3 linked regions of the Homo sapiens genome follow. The protein of the gene in region 3 interacts with the protein of the main gene of each other region in a pairwise test. Each region holds a gene or a part of one and is shown on either strand. Other genes may lie near its edges.

Region 1 (7,853 bases), on a different chromosome or scaffold from region 3:
ACTCCTGACCTCAAGTGATCCTCCTGCCTCAGCCTCCTAAAGTGCTGAGATTACAGGTGTGAGTCACCACACCCAGCTTGGAAAGCCTTTTTGAACCAGTCAAAATAATCTAAGCAGACTCATCTTTTTTTTGAGTGAATCGTTGAATGGCTTTCCAATTAATTTGCCAGAGAAAAAGCACTGGAATGACCTTTAACAAATCACAGGTTATTTTCTTTGCTTTTGTTATGGCCATGTCCCTTTTGAAATGGCAGTCCTCTGGAGGTTTTATCCATTTAGTTAGGCATATACATGTTTGAGCCACAAAAATGACCCCCAGCATGTGAATTAATTGATAGATTTTGGTGAGTCTGGGCTAGTATGCGCTTACGATTAAATGAAAGTGGCATTCAAATTCAAGGAAGTCAGTTTTAGGACAATCGCCAAGAGTTCAGATTTAGACTAAGGAATGTAAGAAATGGTTTGACCTCCCTCTACATTTTCACTTATTTTAAATGGGGCAATAAGAGGAGTTGAGGGGTTATGGGTAGTGTGCCTGGGATAGACAGTGAGGAGAAAAAAGGAGGTTCAGAAAGTGAAGAAGGTAGTGGCAGAGGAGAATAAAGTAGAGGTAGTGCAGAGGGAGTGAAAGGAAGAGGAACAAAGGGTTTGAGTCCTTCTTGGGAACAGAATCTGGGCTAGGAGGATTTTCAAGTTTTTGGAGGCACTGAGTTCGGAATTAGTTTCTCTCAAGAAGGCAGTCTGAAATTCTTGATTCCATTTGGAGTTTTCATAGTACCTATTAAGGAAAGCCTTATATTGTCTTTGAGAGGCCTAGATTCGTCTTTGTTCTAATTGCAGGCATAAATAAATTTGATTAGGGATACAGAAAGCTCCCCAATGTAGCCAAAGAAGTTTTAAATCCAAAAGTTTCATCCAGAGCCTTAAATAGGCACAAGAATTTTCTCCATAGGTTTTTAAATATAAAAGTCATCAGTGCACCATAAGGTGGCTGGTTGGAGACCATTACCTTAGAACATGGGTTACCCATGGCACTATAACAAAGGCATCCCTTTGAGTACAACAGAAACATGAGTGTCCCCACAAAACTTGAAATGTGAGCATACTCCACCAAGCACAAGTACATTGCAAAATGCAAAAGTACTCCACGAAGTGTGAGTGTACCCCACAGGGCCCATAGAGGCAAGTGAACATGCTCCCTGGAGAAAACAAAGTCTCGGAGACCTCAGCCTAAGAGCCCGAGATCTGCAGATGGGGGAACACAGCCTCCAATGTAAACTAAGTGCTCCGAAGAACAAAGAGTGGGTCTGGCTTAAATAGGGAAAGTTCTCCTCCCAGCCCTTAATCAAGTTTGTGTATGCAAATAAACAACTCAAAAGTAGTCCCCATTAGTTGAAAACAGCTGAGTCCTGATTGGGTAGTTTCCAAGTCCCAACCAGAAGTCTCTGTTGGATGTCACTTTCAGAAAGGCAGCTGGTGAGTTTTCCTGCCATTGTGCATGCTACTCTTCAAAAGGACAACTGCCTAAGCTACAAGATTTAAAGGAAACATCCTGTAGAAATAGGCCCAAGGGTCTTCTCAGGCTATGTTCTAGGCCCAATTTACCTCCAATCCTTTTCCTCCTTAAAATAATTTCTTCTCACAGCCTCTCTTCTGTATATATCCAGGCAGGGCAAAGCACAAATATGAGCTAAGGTGATATTTTAAATAGGGAATACACAAAACATTAGAAGGAGATAGAGTGAGCAATTATCTTAACAATGGTTATGATGGTGGTAGGAGAAAAAAGGAGAGTTTTGAGAAATAACCTCTCCTATATGTGCCTGCCTAAGTGTAATTTATCTGTGGTACTTTATCGTCCTAATGTGTAATGTTATATTTAAATGGTTCACTGGAATAATTCAATAGATTGTAGATCAATGCTTCAGGCTTTATCACCTCTATTTTACAAGTCATGCTTGCTAATGGAGGTTAACTGTTTGCAGCTTCCAGGGGACCCTAGAGGGCCCTGGTTTTCTGAGAACCACAGTTGGTAGAAGAGCCCAAGTTGGAGCGATTTTTTTTTTTTTTGAGACAGAATCTTGCTCTGTTGCCCAGGCTAGAGTGCAGTGACACAATCTCAGCTCACTGCAACCTCCGCCTCCCAGGTACAAGTGATTCTCCTGCCTCAGCCTCCCAAGTAGCTGGGATTACAGGTGCCCGCCACCGTGCCTGGCTAATTTTTGTATTTTTAGTAGAGATGGGGTTTCACCATGCTGGCCAGGCTGGCCTCAAGCTCCTGACCTTGTGATCCACCCACCTCGGCCTCCCAAAGTGCTGTGATTGCAGGCGTGAGCCACCGTGCCCAGCCAGTTAGAGTGATTTTCTAAAAGCCACTTTTGATGCACCTGTAGTCCCAGCTACTTGGGAGGTGGAGGCGGAGGCGGGAGTGCTCTCGGACCAAACTGAGGGTGGGGCTGCTATTTCTCGTGACCTAATAACAAGATGCAGATAAACTGTGGAGGAAGAGAGTTTTTATTTCTGTAACTGTTTACAGGGAAAAGGCCTGGATATTATCACGAAACCAACTCAAAATCACGATGTTTTCCAGAGCTTATATACCTTCTAAGCTATATGTCTACATGTAAGTGTGCATTCATCTAAAGACATAAGTGATTAACTTCTTTTAATCTATAAATAAGGTCTGAATCTTGAAGATCTTCCTCTGGAGCCTCAGTAAATTTACTTAATCTAAATGGGTCCGGCAAGGTGCGGTGGCTCACGCCTGTAATCCCAGCACTTTGGGAGGCCAAGGTGGGTGGATCATGAGGTCAGGAGTTCGAGACCATCCTGGCTAACATGGTGAAACCCCGTCGCTACTAAAAATACAACAAATTAGCCGGGCGTGGTGGTGGGTGCCTGTATTCCCAGCTACTTGAGAGGCTGAGGCAGGAGAATGGCGTGAACCCGGAAGGCAGAGCTTGCAGTGAGCCGAGATTGTGTCACTGCACTCCAGCCTGGGTGACAGAGCGAGACTCCGTCTCAAAAAAAAAAAAAAAAAATCTAAATGAGTCCAGGTGCTGGCGTGATTACCCTTATCTTGTCTCCTGCTAAATCACAGAGGTTTGGGGAGTTCCTTCGGACTCCCAACAAACTTGTTTGTGGAGGCCTGGGGAGTTTCTTCAGACCCACAATAAAACTTGTTTAATCCTAAATGGGTAATGTTAAGACTTCCTTTGTTATTTTGTCATGCTTTAGGGCCCAGGAAAGGCCTAGGCAAAACTCTTGGTGGGCTTTAGTTACATTCCAGCCTTTGTATAAGGGCACTGGCTTTTTTTAGCTTTTAATATTAACTTCACCACTCAGTACTGAAACAGTTGTTATGGAGGCCTCCGTTAGTGAGACGTGGCCTGCCACAGGAGGACTGCTTGAGCCCAGGAGTTAGAATCAAGCCTGGGCAACAGAGCAAGACCCCATACCTTATAAGATGCCTTTTATTTTTAGTTTTTTTATTTTTTCGAGACGGGGTCTCACTGTCGTCCAGGCTGCAGTGCAGTGGTGTGATCATGGCTCACTGCAGCCTCAGCCTTCTGACTAGCTAGGAACACAGGTGGGTGCTCCCACCCCCGGCTAATTAAATTTTTTTTGTTTGTTTGAGACAGGGTCTCATTCTGTGTCACCCAGGCTGGAGTGCAATGGCAGGATCTTGGGCTCACTGAAACCTCTGTCTCCTGGGCTCAAGCAATTGTCGTGCCTCACCCTCCTGAGTAGCTGGGATTACAGGAGCCTGCCACCACGCCCGGCTAATTTTTGTATTTTTAGGAGAGACAGGATTTCACCATGTTGCCCAGGCTGGTCTGGAACTTCTGACCTCAATAATATACCTGCCTTGGCCTCCCAAAGTGCTGGGATTACATACTTGAGCGATGGCACCTGGCCTAAAAAATAATATTTTTAGAGACAAGGGTTTTGCTATGTTGCCCAGGCTAGTCTTAACTCCTGGGCTCAAGTGATTCTTCCCAGTAGCTTGGGATTACAGCCACTGTGCCTGGTAAGGCACTTTTATTTTTCATATCCCCTTAGCCAACTCGAAGTAAAACCATCTCTCAAATGTATCTTGACAAAACCTGGCAGCAAACAAAAAAATCTCAAACTTGTCTGTCATTAAAAGATTGTGGTACCCACGCAACGACACCAACTCAATGCTTAGGGTATGATGTTTTTTTTTTTTACCCATCAGTTTTGAAAAAGTTAATTACATTTGGCAATTCCCCATTCCCTTATAGTGAGGGGTCTCAAGAGCTGGCTCCTACACATAAAGGGCTTAGAACAGTGGCTGGTACCTAGGCCACCAATAGTCTTTTGCCCCACCCAACCGGTGACACAGCCCGGGGCCCCGCCGCCCCCTGGCGGCCATTACGGATTTCCGCCTCCCTCACAGAAGGCAGTCACTGCAACGTGCGTGGCCTCAGTTGCGTCATATCCGGCCCTTGCGATCAGGGCTTGAGGAACCCGCGCCATGAAGTGCGTGTTTGTTACCGTAGGGACCACCAGCTTTGACGACCTCATTGCGTGTGTGTCGGCGCCCGACAGTCTGCAAGTGAGTGAGGGAGGCGAGCAGGCGGCGGCTTGGCTCGCCACCCGCCATCTCCGGCCATACTGCCAGCCGCGTTAGCCTTGCCTGACCGTCGCGCTCGGAAAGAAACCCCCGCAACTCTACCACAGGTGCCGCTGCCCCTTAGCTGGCTTCTGCCCACGCCCGGCGGGGCCCTTCTCCGGCTACCCGGCCACTCGGGGTTGCCTGTTTCCTCTTCCCATTATTCCGGCCGCTCCTCTCCCTCATTTCTTCAGCTCCTTTTCCGGTCTGCCCCCGCGCTCTATTCTCCGCCTCCGCGTCCTCCGCCCCTCCTTCCAACGGCTCCGCCCCTCCGAGCTCGGGTTTTCCACCGGGCTCGGCAGTTTTTCCTCAGGCCCCCCTGTGGACCGCACGTCGGCGCCGGCGTCTGAGCCAGCCGAGCTCGCCTCAGAGCCCGGCTCCTTCCCCTCAGCACTTGGCCGGAGCCCGCGCGGTTCCTCTCCTCAGCGCGCGTCGTCCCCTCAGGGCTCCCGGTTCTCGCAGTTGATCAAGTGAGGCAGAACGGGTAGTGCCTGGGTTCCCCCCGAGTTTGCGACTCCTTTTCCAAAGTCTTTTCCTGCTGTGGCTTTCGCGGGACTCTGCGAGCTGGGTCGCTTAGATTCATGAGTGCTTGGGAGGTTCCTCGTCGGGCCCCGGACCAGAAAATAGTTTTGAAAACTAAGTGAAATCGGCCACAGATAGGCTTTTTGGCGGCCGTGCTCCGATGTTAACGTCAAACTTTAGTAGTGGTGGTGGTTCCTGCTCTGTTTTACATAGCCAGTTTAAAAGGCCCTCACATTCTGATTTCCTCTTTCAGAAAATCGAGAGCCTTGGTTACAACCGACTTATCCTGCAAATTGGTAGAGGAACGGTGGTACCTGAACCCTTCAGTACTGAGTCGTTTACTCTGGATGTTTACAGGTACAAGGATTCCTTGAAAGAAGACATTCAGAAAGCAGATCTTGTTATTAGTCACGCAGGTAAAGGTGCCTAAGAATCTCAGGGTTGGGTCTTTTAATTTTAATTTTTTTTAAGTTCTGGGGTATTCTGGGGGTACATGTGCAGGATGTGCGGGCTTGTTACAAAGGTAAACGTGTGCCATGCATCACCTAGGTATTAAGCCCAGCATCCATTAGCTTTTTATCCTGATGCTCTCCCTCCAATAAGGAACTGACACTTGAACCTTTTCGAGGTAAAATAAAATCGCTAGCTGAACTCACTGTAGCCCTTTTTGAATACACAACTTATTTGAATATGACAATTGAGAACTTTACTGGAGAGAACTTAGTATTTTGGGGTGAGAGAAGAATGGGAAATTAACCACTGTAGTCCACCTTTACAATAAAAAACCCTAAACACAGAGGAGCAAAATAATTTACCCGGGGAAGTGTAATAAATTGTCAACTTGACATTAGTACTTGGGCTTAGATCTAAAGGAGTGTTCTGCCTGCTGATTGGTTGGATTGGTCATGGAGAAATTGGAATTGTAAGATTGTTTACATTTCTGTTGAATGTGAGTGAAATGAATCCAGTCAAAAATAATAACAGCTACATACTGTGTAAATTGTTTCCTCTTCAGAGGACCGCCCTGATGGTCTAGTTAATTAGACTTCTAGTGCATTCAGAAGAACTGCTTTTGGGGAGCAATGCAGTTTTGACTGTTGTGAAGAAAGGTGTTTCGTTTTTTCCTTTCTTTTTTTTTTTTAAAGTCTAGTTTGAGGAGAGAAAAGTCTTTAGAAATAGACATTACCAACAGATTCGTGATTAAAAATGTATCTCCTAGGAGGTAACAGAGCCTTTGGCACTGCTCTGAATGCTTTGTGTATATTAACTTTACTTTTTTAAACAATCCTGTGAACTAAGTACTGTTAGTATCTCCATTTTACACATGAGGAAACTGAGACACAAGAGTGGTTAAGTAATTTGTCCAGCCGGGAAGTGGTGGACAGATAACAATCTGGTGCTGGAGTTTATGTTCTTTTTTTCTTTTCTTTTCCTTTCCTTTCTTTCTATTTTTTTTTTTTTTTTTTTCTGGGACGGAGTTTCACTCTGTCACCCAGGCTGGAATGCAGTGATGCTATCTCGGCTCACTGCAACCTCCACCTCCCGGGTTCAAGCGATTCTCCTGTCTCAGCCTCCCCAGTAGCTGAGATTACAGGTGCACACTACCACGCCCCGGCTAATTTTTTTTTTCTTTGTATTTTAGTAGAGACGGGGTTTCACCGTGTTGCCCAGGCTGGTCTCAAACTCCTGAGCTCAGGCAATCCACCTGCCTCGGCCTCTCAAAGTGCTAGGATTACAGGCATGATCCACTGCACCCCTCCGGAGTTAATGTTGTTAACTAACCACCCTAGCATAAGATACCCAAAAAGGACTTATCTACTCACTTATCAATCTCCTTGCTCTCATTTAAAATAGTTAGATGATTTTACATTTCAAAATTGAATTGATCCTAATATTCTATATTTGCATATTCATGGAGATCTATCCTTGACTATTTCTGGGATAGCACCTCACATGTAAACCCATAAGAAGTGGTCAGGGTTTTTCATTATTGATGCCTGTCTGTCTCTATTGTAGGCTTGCTTTTCTACTTGGGGTTGAATAGAAATGAAGTATAGTTTCACATACAGTATGTCAAACCTGGATCTTATTTGGATTCAAGGCCATGCCCAAAGCATACTCCAGATGGCCCATCGTACAATGGTTTCACTTAGAGTTTTTCAACTTTATGGTGGTGTGAAAGCAATACGCATACACATTCAGTAGAAACCGCTCTTCGAGTACCCATATAACCATTCTGTTTTACACTTGGAGTATTTAATAAATGGCATGAGATAGTCAACACTTTATCATAAAATAGGTTTTGTGTTAGATGATTTTGCCCAACCACAGGCTAATGTAAGTGTGTTCTGAGCATGTTTAAGGTAGGCTAGGCTAAGCTGTGATGTGTGGTGGGTTAGGTGTATTAAATGCATTTTCTATTTAGAATATTTTCAACTGCTTTTTTTTTTCCTTTTTTTTTGAGGTGAGTTCTCACTCTGTCACCCAAGACAGGGTGCAGTGGTGCAATCATAGCTCACTTCAAGCTCCAACTCTTGGGCTCAAGCAGTCCTTCCGCCTCAGGCTCCCCAGTAGCTGGGACCACAACCACCATGCCTTATTGTTTTTGTTTTTATTTTGATTTTTTAGTAGAGACAAGGTCTCTCTATGTTGCAGAGAGTGGTCTTGAACTCCTGGGCTCAAGCGATCCTCCCAC
Region 2 (7,404 bases), on a different chromosome or scaffold from region 3:
CCAGGCTGGAGTGCAGTGGCGCGATCTGGGCTCACTGCAAGCTCTGCCTCCCGGGTTCACGCCATTCTTCTGCCTCAGCCTCCCGAGTAGCTGGGACTACAGGTGACTGCCACCACGCCCGGCTAATTTTTTGTATTTTTAGTAGAGACAGAGTTTCACTGTGTTAGCCATGATGGTCTCGATCTCCTGACCTTGTGATCTGCCTGCCTTGGCCTCCCAAAGTGCTGGGATTACAGGTGTGAGCCACCGCGCCTGGCAATTTTTTTTTTTTTTGTATTTTTAGTAGAGACGGGGTTTCAATGTGTTAGGCAGGATGGTCTCGATCTCCTGACCTCATGATCTGCCCACCTCGGCCTCCCAAAGTGCTGGGATTACAGGCGTGAGCCACCACGCCCGGCTGATTTTTTTTTAAAGAGAGTCTTGCTCTGTCACCCAAGCCGGAGTGCAGTAGCATGATCATAGTTCACTGTAGCCTCACACTCCTGGGCTCAAGTGATCCTCCCACCTCAGCCTCCTGAGTAGCTAGGAGTACAGGTGCACACAACCATACCCTGCTAATTTTTAAATTTTTTGTAGAGATAGGTTTTCACAATGTTGCCCAGGCTGACCTTGAACTCCTGGGCCCAAGCGATCCTCTGGCCTCAGCCTCCCAAAAACTCACACCTGGGATTACAGGTGTGAGCCAGCACGCCCTGCCAGGATGCGTCTGAATTGTGTATCTGTATGATCCTTTAATTCACATGCGTCTCCCCCAGCCGGAGTGTACTTTGTGCGGGATGGGCCTGGGTGTGTATTGATGACCACTGGATGTCCTGGCTCGTAGTGGGTCCTCAGTGTGGACGTGTTGAGGAGGTGAATGCAGAGCCTGTGCCGTGGCAGGTGGGGATGGGTGGGGACTGGGATTCATTTGGCTTATGAGCAGTGCTAGCTCTTCCCTCCCTCCCCTCATATGAGTGCTTCCTGTGTGCACTCATGGCTTCTCACTCTTGATTTCATTTGATCTTCTGATGACCCAGAGAGGTTGGCATGGTCCTCCCCGATTTACAGATGAGGCGGCGGAGGCTTTGATGGACGGAGTTCCTTGCTCTCAAGTGGCAGAGTCAGGAGCGCGACCAGGCCTCCCACTTCCAAAGCCTGTGCTGTAAACTCTCACTTGCATTTCCCAGCATTTGCCCTGGGAAGGATTTTAATGGGTTTCTGTGGTCAAGCGAGTGTGGGAAACTGGCTTACTCAGCTCTGCTCACCACCAGCCTTTCAGAGCACACGAATGTGCCTGGGACCTTGGGCAGGGGTTCCCTACCCAGCTGCCACTACATTCCGATGCTGGAGTCCCACACCAGAGACTCTGACGAACCCGGTTGGGGTGAGGCCTGAGTGTCAGGCCTCAGAAAGCTCCCAGGTGGCTCTCGCTGCAGCTAGGGGTGAGAACTGCATCGTTTCCCCTCACTCCTTCCTCCTGGGGAGCCCCGTTTTTCAGGGGGCCTGTCATGAGAAACGGCTTCCTCAGTCCTTTCTCTTTATTGGCCCCACCTCCTCTCTCCATTCCTTCTCTTTGGCCCAAAAGGGTTCCTCTGAACCAGACAGGCCTCCCGTTTCCTGAGGGCGTCTGTGCAGTACTTGCACAGTGTTGACTGCATTTAGTCCTCAGGACAGCCCTCCCGATTCACAGAGGAGGGACCCTGTGCTTGGTAGAGGAAGGGATTTCGAGGTGGTTCAGCAAGACTCAAAGGCAAAATTAGAACTCAGGCTTCTGGCCCCAGGGCTTCTGGGTAGCGCAGGCCGCCTTTCCCACCAGCTTCAGAGCTCCTTGAGGACAGGGATGGTGGCTCCTTCATCTCTGTCCCCACAGCACAGGTGCCCAGGAGCCACAGCCAGTGTGTAGGGCTTTTGTGACCTCCTATCCTGCCTGGTACGGTGGTTATTTGTGGCCATTCTCCTGGGCTGTCACAGGTTGTGAACTGGAGGACCGGCCAGAGGGGCCAGGAAGGCCTTTGTTCTCTAAGGAGGAGAAGCCCTTGGAGGAAGCAGCCGTGGCTTTTCTACCTCAGAGGCTTTGAAGACAAGGGAAGCCTTTGGGCAAAGAGAGGATTCCCCTGAGTGCATGTAGTAAAGAGCTAAGGCGCTGTCACCCATTGTCTGAGACCAGGCCCGAGGCGCCCCGAGAATAGCCCTGCTGCGCCAGGCCTCCATCCACCACACCCCGAGAGTGCACTTGGGCAGCCCCTTATCTGAGGAGGGTGTGGGGCGGGCGGAGCGGCTGTCAGATAGGTCCCTGCCCGGAACACCGTCCTGAGCATCTGTGGCTGGGAGCTCCAGCGAGGCCCTCCTGGGAACTGGGGCTCCATCCCGAAGGCAGTGGGAGCCATAGCCGGGTTTAAACTGAGGTGCGCCTGGCTCAGATTTACATTCTAGAAATGTCTCCCTGGCCACAGGAATGGACTGGATGGAGATTGGCCTGGGAAGGGCCCCGCTGTTGCAGGAGCTTAAGGCAGAGGCTGTGGTGGGCTCAACCTTCCGGGCTGGGCCAGGGGACAGGATGGGGAGTTCTGAGTGGGCAGAGGCAGGATCTGGACTTGCTCAGGATGCCTTGCTGGACCAGGGAGGAGAGTTGAGGGCAACAGCAGGGAAGTCCTGCAGGCTTCTCGCACCCACCCCTCACTCACCCATCTGTGTGCCAGCACTTCTGTCTGTGTGCTTTTCTTAACCAGGGCTGCTCCTTCCCTGGGTTCCCCACCACACCCCTGGGCCTGGCACAGAGTGGCTCAGCAGGTGGGCGTTGAACAGGGTCAGCCTCTGCCCAGGAGCTAGCAGGTGCCTAGAGAACAATCGAGGGGTAGGGCAGACACAAGAGACAGGAAGGGGTGGAGCACATGGCCCCCACCCGCCTCCCTCCCAGTTCAGGGCAGAATGTTCTCTTAAAGGCAAAATTAGAACTCAGGCTTCTGGCCCCAGGGCTTCTGGGTAGCACAGGCCGCCTTTCCCACCAGCTTCAGAGCTCCTTGAGGACAGGGATGGTGGCTCCTTCATCTCTGTCCCCACAGCACAGGTGCCCAGGAGCCACAGCCAGTGTGTAGGGCTTTTGTGACCTCCTATCCTGCCTGGTACGGTGGTTATTTGTGGCCATTCTCCTGGGCTGTCACAGGTTGTGAACTGGAGGACCGGCCAGAGGGGCCAGGAAGGCCTTTGTTCTCTAAGGAGGAGAAGCCCTTGGAGGAAGCAGCCGTGGCTTTTCTACCTCAGAGGCTTTGAAGACAAGGGAAGCCTTTGGGCAAAGAGAGGATTCCCCTGAGTGCATGTAGTAAAGAGCTAAGGCGCTGTCACCCATTGTCTGAGACCAGGAGCTCCCAAGTGTCTAAAGGGGCTTTGGTTTGCTTTTTCCGTTCATCCTCCTTGGAGCTCAACCCCTTGGCTTCAGTCTGGACGTGTGAATCTTCCTTTAGCTCAGGACATTTTTCTCCTGTGATCTCTCTGATGATTTCTTCTCCTGCATCGTTCCCTGTATGTCCTGTAGGCACCACAGGGAATATTAGACTTCCTGCATCTCTTCCAAGCATCCTGTAGCTTTTCTCTCATTTTTTCCTCCCTCCTGTTTTTCTTCTGGGAGGTGTTATCTGTCTTACAGGTTTCTCTGTTATTCAGTTCCCTTGTTAAAAAGTGTTGATTTTGGCCACCATATTTGTTCATTTCCAGGAACTCTGCTTTGTGTCTGATTGATCCTTCCTGTGTGGTGGATGTCATTAGCACCGACACTGATAAGACTTCCCTTCCACCTTTCCTTTCATCCGGTCTGTGTGTAAACTCAGCAGAGGCAGGCGTGGGGAGCCCCAGAAATGCACCGGCTCTGGGCTGGGCTCTGGCAGATTCATATGAATGGGAGAGTCTCTGTCTGGCCAGCCCTTCTGTTTTGTTTTGTTTTGTTTTGTTTTGTTTTGTTTTGTGACTGAGTCTCGCTCTGTCACCCAGGCTGGAATGTGTTGGTGTGATCTCAGCTCACTGAAACCTCTGCCTCCCGGGTTCAAGCGATCCTGGTGGCTCAGCCTCCTGAATAGCTGGGATTATAGGCGTGCGCCACCACGCCCGGCTAATTTTTGTATTTTCAGTAGAGACAGGGTTTTGCCATGTTGGCCAGGCTGGTCTCAAACTCCTAACCTCAAGTGATCCTCCCGCCTTGGCTTCCCAAAGTGCTGGGATTACAGGCAAGAGCCCCCGCGCCCAGCCCCTTCTGTTTTTAAGAAAGATAAACCCCTAACCTCTGAAGAGCTTTTGCAGTGACATGGGCATGGACACCACCAGGTCTCGCTGTGATGAGGTGGGTGGAGGCTTCTCCCTTCCTCCTCCGCCCTTTCTTCCCTGCCTCCTGCTCCTCCTCGGCCCCTCCCTTTTGCTGTGATTCCCCACAGCCCTTTTCAGTTCAGCCAGGATCTGAATGGCCCCTGTCCAGGGCTGGGTACAGTGGGGCCAGCAGTCACACAGCCGTGTATCCAGCTGTTGCCACCTGCCAGTCACACCACCACTGTGAGCAGGTACTGCCATTAGCCCCATGGCACATGTGGGGAAACTGAGGCACGGGATGGTTGGCTAATCTGCCCAAGGTCACAGAGCCAGTGAGTGGCGGGGCCGAGATTCAAACCCAGGCAGTGTGAAGTTCATGAAGGGAAAAGCTGAACTTGCTGGAACCCCTTCAGACTCCACGCTCCTGGCCTGGCTGAAGGACCCTGCTGACTCTCTCCCCCAGCTCACCCCTCCGGGGGCTGCCGTCCTGGCTGTGACCTGGGCCTGGTGTGCCTTCACAGCCCACTCCTGCTGTTGAACTCCCCCTCTTCCCTCAGGCTCAGCACAGTCGGGGTGCTTCCTAGGGGTGGGAGTGCACCCTCGCAGCACACCTGCCTCCCTCTTGGCAGTCGCTGTGAGCATAGTGAAGCCGGCCATTGCACCTTTGCCCATTCCCCGGGTGAAACGCCAGCTCCAGCAGGGCAGGGACTGAGTCTGTGGCCCACTGTGGCTGGCATTCAGGCAACGTGGCCTGCGTTGACCCTCAGGTTGGCTGCACTTGCCTGCAGGGGAAAATGCCCCCTCTGCAGCCCACTCTGAGGGCCCCTTCCCTTCCCCGCCTCTCACCCCTGCCTTGGCACATGCCCTTTGCTTGGAATACCTGCCACCTCCGGCCCCCTCCTGGAGGGCAGGCTCTGCACTGCACTGCCCGGGCCCCTTGCACTCAGTCTCCCAGCCCTTCCCAGATTGTCAGTTGGCATCATTTGGGCACCTGTCAACCCTGCCAGGCAAGGTAGGTGAGCTCCTGGAGGACACTAGGAAATGTCTGTGGCATGAATGAGGGAGGGACATAAAGGAGCCCTTAGCGAGTGGGGACACAGACGTGTTCCACCAGAGTGCAGCCTGGCCCTGCCTCTGGGAGCTTTGCTGTGGACACAGACGTGTTCCCTCAGAGTGCAGCCTGGGCCCTGCCTCCAGGAGCTTCGCTGTGGGAGGAGGTGACACGGGAGCCGCAGCTACCAGGCAGCGAGCTCTCGCCCGGGCTGTTCTAGGTGCTGGCTACAGGAGCCCACAGAACAGACCCCCTTCCTTCCTGGGGTTCTCCTCCAGCCAAGGGCTTCATCCCTCATTGGCTGGGGCCGTCTCCTTGTTTGACAGATGTGGAGGCTGTGAATGCAATAAGTAAGGCTCCCGGAACTGCCTTGAAGTACTCAGGTTGCCTTTACCAACCCTTACTCCTTGTGAGGATCCTGGAGGTAGCTGCCATTAATATTCCCCTCCTTTGGGCTGGACGCAGTGGCTCACACCTGTAGTCCCAGCTACTTGGGAGGCAGAGGTAGGAGGATCACCTGAACCCAGGAGGTAGAGGCTGCAGTGAGCCAAGATCGTGCCATTGCACTCCAGCCTGGGTGACAGAATGAGACCCTATCTCAAAAACAAACAAAATGACCCTCTTTTTTACATGAGGAAACTGAGGCACAGGTATTCAGCCATTGGCCCAGGTCCCACACTGGTAAGTGCTGGGGCGGATCTGGACCCAGGCGGTGGCTCTGCACCTGCGCCGCTGGTAGTGCTGCCATGAAGGACCCACGGGCAGGGGTCTCTTCCCACTCTGTCTCTCACACACACCTGCCCGTCTCCTGCAGTCATCGGCCCCTTCCATGAGCCTCTGCTGTGTGGCCGGCCCTGCTGTGCCTGAGGACACTGGAGGAAAGCAGATGGTGACACCAGAGGGAGACAGTGCAACAGGAAGCCGTGTCGTTGTCACCCATGAGGGCGAGGCCTGGCAAGGGGCCAGGCAGAGGAAGGGCCACCTTGGCTTCAGATATGGGCGACCTCAGCTCAGGCCCCCCCGCCATTCCCAGCGCTCCTCACCTCCGTGAGGCCCTCAACAGCCATGGCTGTCACCCCACCCACCCTCCTATCTGGACCTGCTGGGGTGTGAAAGACAGTCCCGTGCTGAGGGTGCCTTGGATGGGTTCTTCTTAACCTCAGAGCCCCTGTTTCCACCTGGAATTACAGCCTTCTGTGAGGCTGGAAAGGTAAAACAAGAAGGCTGTAGAAAACGCCTGCCACACAGTATGCCGGTCCTGGAATAACATTTTGTTGTGACATTGATGAGGAAAAAATAATGATTCCCGGGACCATTGTCTGGGTGGTGGTTGTGGGTTCTCCCTGTGCTGGTGCAAGTTCCTCTGGGCTCTCCTTTCCTTGTGCATCCTTGGGATGTGTCCGCTGGGTGAGCTCCCGGGTCTCCGTGGGCCCAGTGTGAGTGAGTGTGGGCCCGTGTGCGCCCTGTGATGGGATGGCGTTCTGTCCAGGGTCCATTCCTGCTTTTGGCCCTGCCAGGACGGGCTCTGGCCACCCAGGACCCTGAGCTGGAGGAAGCGAGTAAATGTCTTACTGGTTTTTTGTTTTTTATTTATTTTTTAAGACAGGGTCAGGGCCGGGCGCGGTGGCTCACGCCTATAATCCCAGCACTTTGGGAGGCCGAGGTGGGTGAATCACGAGGTCAGGAGATCAAGACCATCCTGGCTAACATGGTGAAACCCCGTCCCTGCTAAAAATACAAAAAAATTAGCTGGGCGTGGTGGCGGGTGCCTATAGTGCCAGCTACTCAGGAGGCTGAGGCAGGAGAATGGCGTGAACCCGGGAGGCGGAGCTTGCAGTGAGCCGAGATTGCGCCACTGCACTCCAGCCTGGGCGACAGGGCGAGACTCTGTCTCAAAAAAAAAAAAAAAAAAAAAAAAAAAGACAGGGTCTTGCTGTTGCCTGGGCTGCAGTACAGTGGCATGATCATGGCTCACTGCAGTAGCGACCTCCTGGGCTCAGATGATCCTCCTGCCTCAGCTTCCCAAGTAGCTGGGACACGGGTGCATGCCACCACACCTGGCTAACTTTTGTATTTTTTGT
Region 3 (6,857 bases):
TGCACTCCATCCTGGGTGACAGAGCAAGACTCTGTCTCAAAAAAAAAAAAAGTAAAGAAAACATATATATATATATATAGAGAGAGAGAGAGAGAGAGAGAGAGAGAGAGAGAGAGAAAGAGAGAGAGAGAGAAACCTGGAAACCTGGCCAGGCACAGTGGCTCACACCTGTAATTCCAGCACTTTGGGAGGCCAAGGTGGGCAGATCACCTGAGGTCAGGAGTTCGAGACCAGCCTGGCCAACATGGTGAAACCCCGCCTCTACTAAAAATACAAAAATTAGCTGGACGTGGTGGTACATGTCTGCAATCCCAGCTACTCAGGAGGCTGAGGCAGGAGAATGGCTTGAACCTGGGAAGTGGAGGTTGCAGTGAGCCGAGATCGCGCCATTGCACTCCCACCTGGGCGACAGAGCAAGACTCCGTCTCAAAAAAAACATAAAAACTCAGTTGAAGCTGGTTGAGGTGGTCCATGCCTGTAGTCGCAGCTACCCAGGAGGCTGAGGCAGAAGGATCACTTGAGCCCAGGAATTTAAGACCAGCATAGCAAGACTCTTGTCTCTAAAAACAAAATTTTTTGATTAACAAAAGAAAAACTCAGTTGAAAGTGGTTGCCTTTAGAGAAGGAGAAATGGGGGTGGGATCAGGAGAATGCTGCCTTTCATAGAACTGACTTTTTAAACTCGTAACTTCTACGAATTGAGGTAAACTCCTTACTTTTTTAAAAAAATAAGTAAAAAAAAGTAAAGTTGTAAAAGAAAAGCTCCATCAACTATCCATCCCCCAAAAACTTTTTTATGCCTATTTAATCTACATTCTTCAAAATTTTTTTAACCTGCCTAGCTTTAATGGTATTATTTACATTAACCAACTGAAAAACTGTTTTCAGAACCCCATTTTTAAAAGCATTTAAAAGAATTCTGCACCAACATGTGGAGACACATATAATCCAACCCCTGTATACTTCATTAGGGCTTATTTGTTTAAACAGTTTCATTGGCATTCATACTTGGAACAACAGAGGGTTATTATAAAAAAAAAAAAACATAGTTGTGTTTATCATGCCAGGACTGGGTAACTTTATTCAAGACTTTGACAAAATGATCCCCAAAGTAATATAAATGTAGACACTTTAAAAAGTCCAGATGTGAAATTTCAAGAAAACTTTGAATTCAGTCCAAAGTCAGTATTAAGTCAAAAGTTGAACCAATTCTACAAATCATAAATACTATTTTCCTTCTTAAGTTCATATATTTTCTGAGATAGATTACCAACTTAGTTTTCTTTGATATTGGTATTTGGAATAATTTTAACATGATTTAACATCTTTAAGTTCTAAATCTATACTTATCCTGAATATCTTATTATAGTTAAAAATATAAATCCAGAACTGACAACTCTTCCTTACAGAAGAATTCCAATAATAAATGTAGAAGGATTGAGAGAAATAGAAAATCACCATTAGAACACCACAGTAGTAACTGCCACAAGCAAGATCTGCCAATGGATAGTAAAATGAGCAAAAGTTTAAGCAGAAACGGGACATTTGCATAGTCTCCGGGTATCTCCAGCAAATATTCAATAATTACAAGGAAAACACAGTAAGTTTACAGTAGCGAATCCTAGCAGACACCACCTTAGCATAGTGATCAAGGTTAACAACACCAGAAATACATTACAACATCAGGTATCCCCTGTTATGATACACTGTCACAGACTGGAAGACAGGACGTAGGCATGATAGCTAAATGCAAGGCTGGGTCTTGGAACAGTAAAAGGACATTAGTGAAAAGACTAAAATCTCTACTTTTTAAACTTTCTACTTTAGTTAGTATTATATCAAGGTTAATTTCTTAATTTTGACAAATGTTCTATTGTTACGTAAGATGTTAACATAAGGGCAAGGTGGGTGCAGAGTATACAAGAACTCTACTACTTTTACAACTCTTCTGTAAGTCTAAAATTATCTCAAAAGCTTAAAAAATAACTGTTAGAAAACAAACATGTATGTGCATAACATGTGTACATATATATAAATCAAGACTTCATGGAAATTGGCATCTTGGGCACTCAGTCAGTAAAAGAATAGTGTTCTCTTCTGAATTATTCATTGTCTTACTGGTAGCTTAGCTTTAAGGTCCTCCCCCTTCTAGACTTTTAATTTCAAGTATAAATTTCTAATTTTCATAGAAAAGCCTTTTTTAAACATTCCTATATTAGGCCAAAAATAAAATCCTAGAATAAAATTATCACCATATTATCTTATAAAATCACTCATCCCAATCATAAGACCCAGCCAGTATTTTTACTACATTTCCTCTCCTCATCTGTTTGTATTGGTTTGGTTTGGTTTATGAGTGGGGACAGCTAATAGATTTAGTATTTACTCATAGGCCTGACAGTCTAGGGGAAAAAAAATTATCACTTGGGTATCTTATGAAGAAACAGCTATTTTTCCAAGAACCAATATTGTGTACTCACCTCAGACATAAAAAGTTATTTACCTAAGTCTCTTCTATCTAACAGCATAGAGTTACCCAAACAAGGCCAATAAAGACCCTTTCAATATCCTTTTCTTAAATTTGGCTCTAAAATGACTGTTAATAATGGTAATAAATGTCTTTTTATTAAACAGACAATTTTATCTTATGCAATTTAGGGAAATAAACATAAAATCTACCTTTAAATGAAGAAAATAATAATTTCCCACTCTAACTATGGCTGATTCATTCCCTGAGCATGAATCCCATTTTACCCTCATTGTTTTTAACTATAAACTGAGCTGAAATCTGCTCACAGGTGAAACTAGTATTTTAGATGGAGAATGATATTACCAAGTAATCATATTTATTACTTTTTGTAGTAATTATTTCTACTCACTGTGGCATTTAATGTTTCATCTGTAACTCTCTATCACAATGCCCTCTATAGAAGCAGCAATAGTGAAAACATAACTACACTTTGGGGAAAAAAAAAAAAAACAGGAAAAAACAGATAACTTTTAAGTGGATCTTTATCCAAATACAATAAAAAAGCAAAAAAGAAAAGTGTCCGTAAACATTTTCATTTTATGTCAATGCCATTTCCAAATTTACCTTCCACTACTACCATGAACAGCAGAAGTGGTAAAAAAAAAAAAAAAAAAAAAAGAAGAAAAAAACTCTAACCTAATGATCTATAGAAAAAGGGAGACAATTTACTCACTACACATTGCAGTATATTCAAGTGGTGAAAAGATATAAATTTTTTCAGAACTGCCATACTATCTGGCTGTCAATATAGTCTCTTGAATAATTATATTAAACATATTACTACAAAATGTACCAAGAAGTAGAGAATAATACTATATTTGTAAACTGCAAATAACAAAACAAAACAGAAGTCCAAGAAGGCTAAAGTCTAAGCTATAATTACACATGAAGTATATGTTGAAAGCAGTCACAATGTACAAAAATGTGACAAGATATCCAGATGTTTAAAAAAACACATCCTGTTTGTCTCAGATTATATCCAGTTTCATCTGGTAGGTTTCTGATAAGCCTGTTGTGTGAAGTGTGTTTCCCTCCTGCTGGTAAGAAGCAGCTTGTAGATATCCATAAATTTTTTAAGGAGTGAGTCTACTTGGCAATATTGGTAACTCCATAGTTTCCTATTACATTCATTCGTCTGAAAACTGAAAACAACTCATGACTAAAATATTCTTCCATTCCTTTGCCAGTTTTTCAAGTATAAAATCAAAGGAAAGCTGGAATGTATTGCTTCTTGTCATCAACAGGCATTTCAAAAAGAGGGTAATTAACCAAATCAAGTGTTCTTTGGTCAAGTTAGTAACAGGCTTCCACTTTGTTCTAAATCCTTTCATAATCCTTTTTTTTCTAATTTTTCCAGTATGGCCTGAATCTTACAAACAGCCTCTTTTCTGGCCTGCCGTACAGAGTCCTGGCCCCCAGTTTCAACTGAATCCAGTTCCAAAAGTTCCTTGGTTAGCATTTCTTCCAGAAGCCAGTATGCTTTGTCTGTCTTTTTTCCTACAAATTCTTCTACTTCTTGTTCAAGATACTGGACCTTCTCCAGCACATGTATGATTTTTTTAATACTCGGAGGAGTACTTTCATCTGAAGGTACACATTCTTCAGGAAGACTGCTACTTTGATCTTGATTGTTGGGATGGTCACTGGTGGCATTACCATACAGCTGAGGCTCAGCACTATACTGGACTTGGGAATCCAAAAGATCTGAATCATCATTGTTCACTGTCCCCGAGGATTCGTACTGATGGACACTGCAAGGAAAGTTGTGCCGGTTCATGCTTTGATCTGATTGGCTATAGGGGTATGAAGAATCCTTGGAGTGGGAGAGCAAAAAGAGGAAAAGAGCTGTTTTAATGGGAATGCATCAACATCAAATTTGTTAGCCCACATCTTTCACTTGACCAGAAAGGTACATGAAAAGATTCCCTAACAATAAAATTGGACCCCTCTCCTTAATCATTTGCAAAAAAACACAGTCCTAAGAAGATAAAAGGGAGTGCCCTGTCAGACAAAAGGCACAGAATTTTTGAGTTATAATGGCTGGAACCTGCCCTGTGGCAGGTCCATCACCATGAGCACCTCATAGTCCATCCTGTGACCTAATTAATAAGAATTAGTTTTTCCCCTAAAAGGTTAAAAACCTCAAGCAAGGTCTTGAAAAGGAACACAGCCACAAGTGATAATGTTCAAGTCTGTGGTTTAAATACAAGCTCATGCTACAGATATTTCACATTGGTTTTGTCTTCTGTTCATAGATTATTTGAAGTAGTAAAATGCATCTTTGCATTTAACGTTTAGAAGAATTACAACAAACAGAAAATGTGTATCTTTCTGTCTTTTAACAAAAACGATGTGAATCTAAATCTTCTCTAAATATAAAGTCTATTAAAAAAAAGAAAAAGGAAACCGAGCTGAGGTAAAGCTATAGATAAGTAGTCACCAACTTTTTGTAATTAGTCCCCATTTAACACAAACCAGTACAGAAACTATATAAACCATGTTATGTTCTCCTAATTACACACACATTAAAGGAACAACATTTAGGTCTCCTACCTTGGGCTGCTGGACTGGGGGTGAAGGGGGTGACTGGGGAGAGCCACTGCTAGGCCATGGTGAAGTACTTTCAGTCATGTAGAGATTGCCGGGTGGTGCTGAGGGCGCTGATGAAGGCCAGGGATAACGGCCACCCATTCCATAAGCACCAGGAGAAGCCCACGCATCTTCTTGTGGTCGTACAGTCGGTCCTGATTGTGGAACACTACGATTACCATCTCCATAAGGATAATGGGGCAGGGTCATTCCAGGGTTCTAGATTGAGAAGAAGAAATATACCAGTCATTGTGAAAAACTTATAATAAAAATATTCTGCTACAGGCAGATTCTGAGATGCTTCCTCTCTTCTTAACAGAGTATACATTAGCTGCTACCGGACTAAACTGTAGTAAATCTAATTAATCAGCTGCAGTAATTTCTCCAAGCCTCAAAAAGTTGGTTCCAAAGATACCAGGGGTAGATTTAATGACAATAAAACTCAGAAGGAATAAGGCCTAAAAATTCAATGGATGAAACCCAAGTCTGTCCCATAGATACTATAAACAAACGGACCCATATGCTATAAGGAAGCACAAATAAAGACATGTTAGAACTCCTCTTGAAGTGAACAGAGAAATAAACATAGTTATTCACAGAATATTAAAAAAACATGAACCTGGCCAGGCGCGGTGGCTCACGCCTGTAATCCCAGCACTTTGGGAGGCTGAGATGGGCGGATCACGAGGTCAGGAGATCGAGACCATCCTGGCTAACAAGGTGAAACCCCATCTCTACTAAAAATACAAAAAAAATTAGCTGGGCGCGGTGGCGGGCGCTTGTAGTCCCAGCTACTCGGGAGGCTGAGGCCGGAGAATGGCATGAACCCAGGAGGTGGAGCTTGCAGTGAGCCTAGACCGTGCCACTGCACTCCAGCCTGGGCGACAGAGCGAGACTCCGTCTCAAAAAAAAAAAAAAAAAAAAGAACCTAACAGGGTGCTAAAAAAGGCTAAGATTTGCCTGGCACGGTGGCTCATGCCTGTAATCCCAGCACTTTGGGAGGCCGAGGGGGGCAGATCACGAGGTCAGGAGATCAAGACCATCCTGGCCAACATGGTGAAACCCCATCTCTACTAAAAATACAAAAATGAGCTGGGCGTGATGGCGCGTGCTTGTAATCCCAGCTACTTGGGAGGCTGAGGCAGAAGAATTGCTTGAACCCAGGAGGTAGAGGTTGCAGTGAGCCAAGATCACGCCACAAAAAAAAAAAAAAGGCTAAGATAGGGAAACTTTCAAGCAGCAACTCTCTAAAGATTACTTTCAGTATAAAAATTTATGATTATGACCTTCAGCCAAAGTCCATTTACTGCAATAGCTGCCACAAATAAGAAAGGCATCAATATAAAAGCCTTCCCAATCTAGAAGTGTCTTATTAAATCAGCACTAGTATGAACAGATGCTCTTCCACTGTTTACAAGAGGCAGAGACTTTGAATTCATTTTTTTCCCAATAGAAAACAACTCACCTGTGAAGGCGGATATCCTGGAACCTGCCCCCTAAGAGGGGGTGCTTCAGTCTGACAGTCCTGCTGGGGATAGATCCAACGAGAGACTGGAGTTGGGCTGTTGCCAGATGAACGGTAAGTACTTGGAACTTCTGTGGAGTAACTGGTCTGAGTATAACCAGGTGCATAATAAGCCCCTGAGTATGAGGCAGTATTTGCCCCAGGGCCTGGGGGGTATGTTGGACCATACGCTCCATTTGTATAAGAATTCAAACTCTGAAAAAAACCAAGTTG

The links. Proteins that work in one complex are often made in the same cells at the same time.
Region 1: the proteins of BAG4 (region 3) and ALG13 interact in binary tests that used the Homo sapiens proteins (3 or more experiments, as listed by UniProt).
Region 2: the proteins of BAG4 (region 3) and TRAPPC6A interact in binary tests that used the Homo sapiens proteins (3 or more experiments, as listed by UniProt).

What each region holds. Positions count from the first base shown.
Region 1 is NC_000023.11:111,676,721-111,684,573, forward strand, and holds the start of ALG13 (UDP-N-acetylglucosamine transferase subunit ALG13), read left to right. Parts: upstream 1-4,449; 5' UTR 4,450-4,498; coding exon 4,499-4,579; exon of another isoform or gene 4,580-4,704; intron 4,705-4,936; exon of another isoform or gene 4,937-5,106; intron 5,107-5,411; coding exon 5,412-5,574; coding exon of another isoform or gene 5,575-5,580; intron 5,581-7,853. UniProt on the Homo sapiens protein: Catalytic subunit of the UDP-N-acetylglucosamine transferase complex that operates in the biosynthetic pathway of dolichol-linked oligosaccharides, the glycan precursors employed in protein asparagine (N)-glycosylation.
Region 2 is NC_000019.10:45,167,834-45,175,237, reverse strand, and holds part of TRAPPC6A (trafficking protein particle complex subunit 6A), read left to right. Parts: intron 1-7,404. UniProt on the Homo sapiens protein: May play a role in vesicular transport during the biogenesis of melanosomes.
Region 3 is NC_000008.11:38,207,494-38,214,350, reverse strand, and holds the end of BAG4 (BAG family molecular chaperone regulator 4), read right to left. Parts: intron 6,840-6,857; coding exon 6,585-6,839; intron 5,339-6,584; coding exon 5,084-5,338; intron 4,344-5,083; coding exon 3,858-4,343; 3' UTR 1,050-3,857; downstream 1-1,049. UniProt on the Homo sapiens protein: Inhibits the chaperone activity of HSP70/HSC70 by promoting substrate release. Prevents constitutive TNFRSF1A signaling. Negative regulator of PRKN translocation to damaged mitochondria.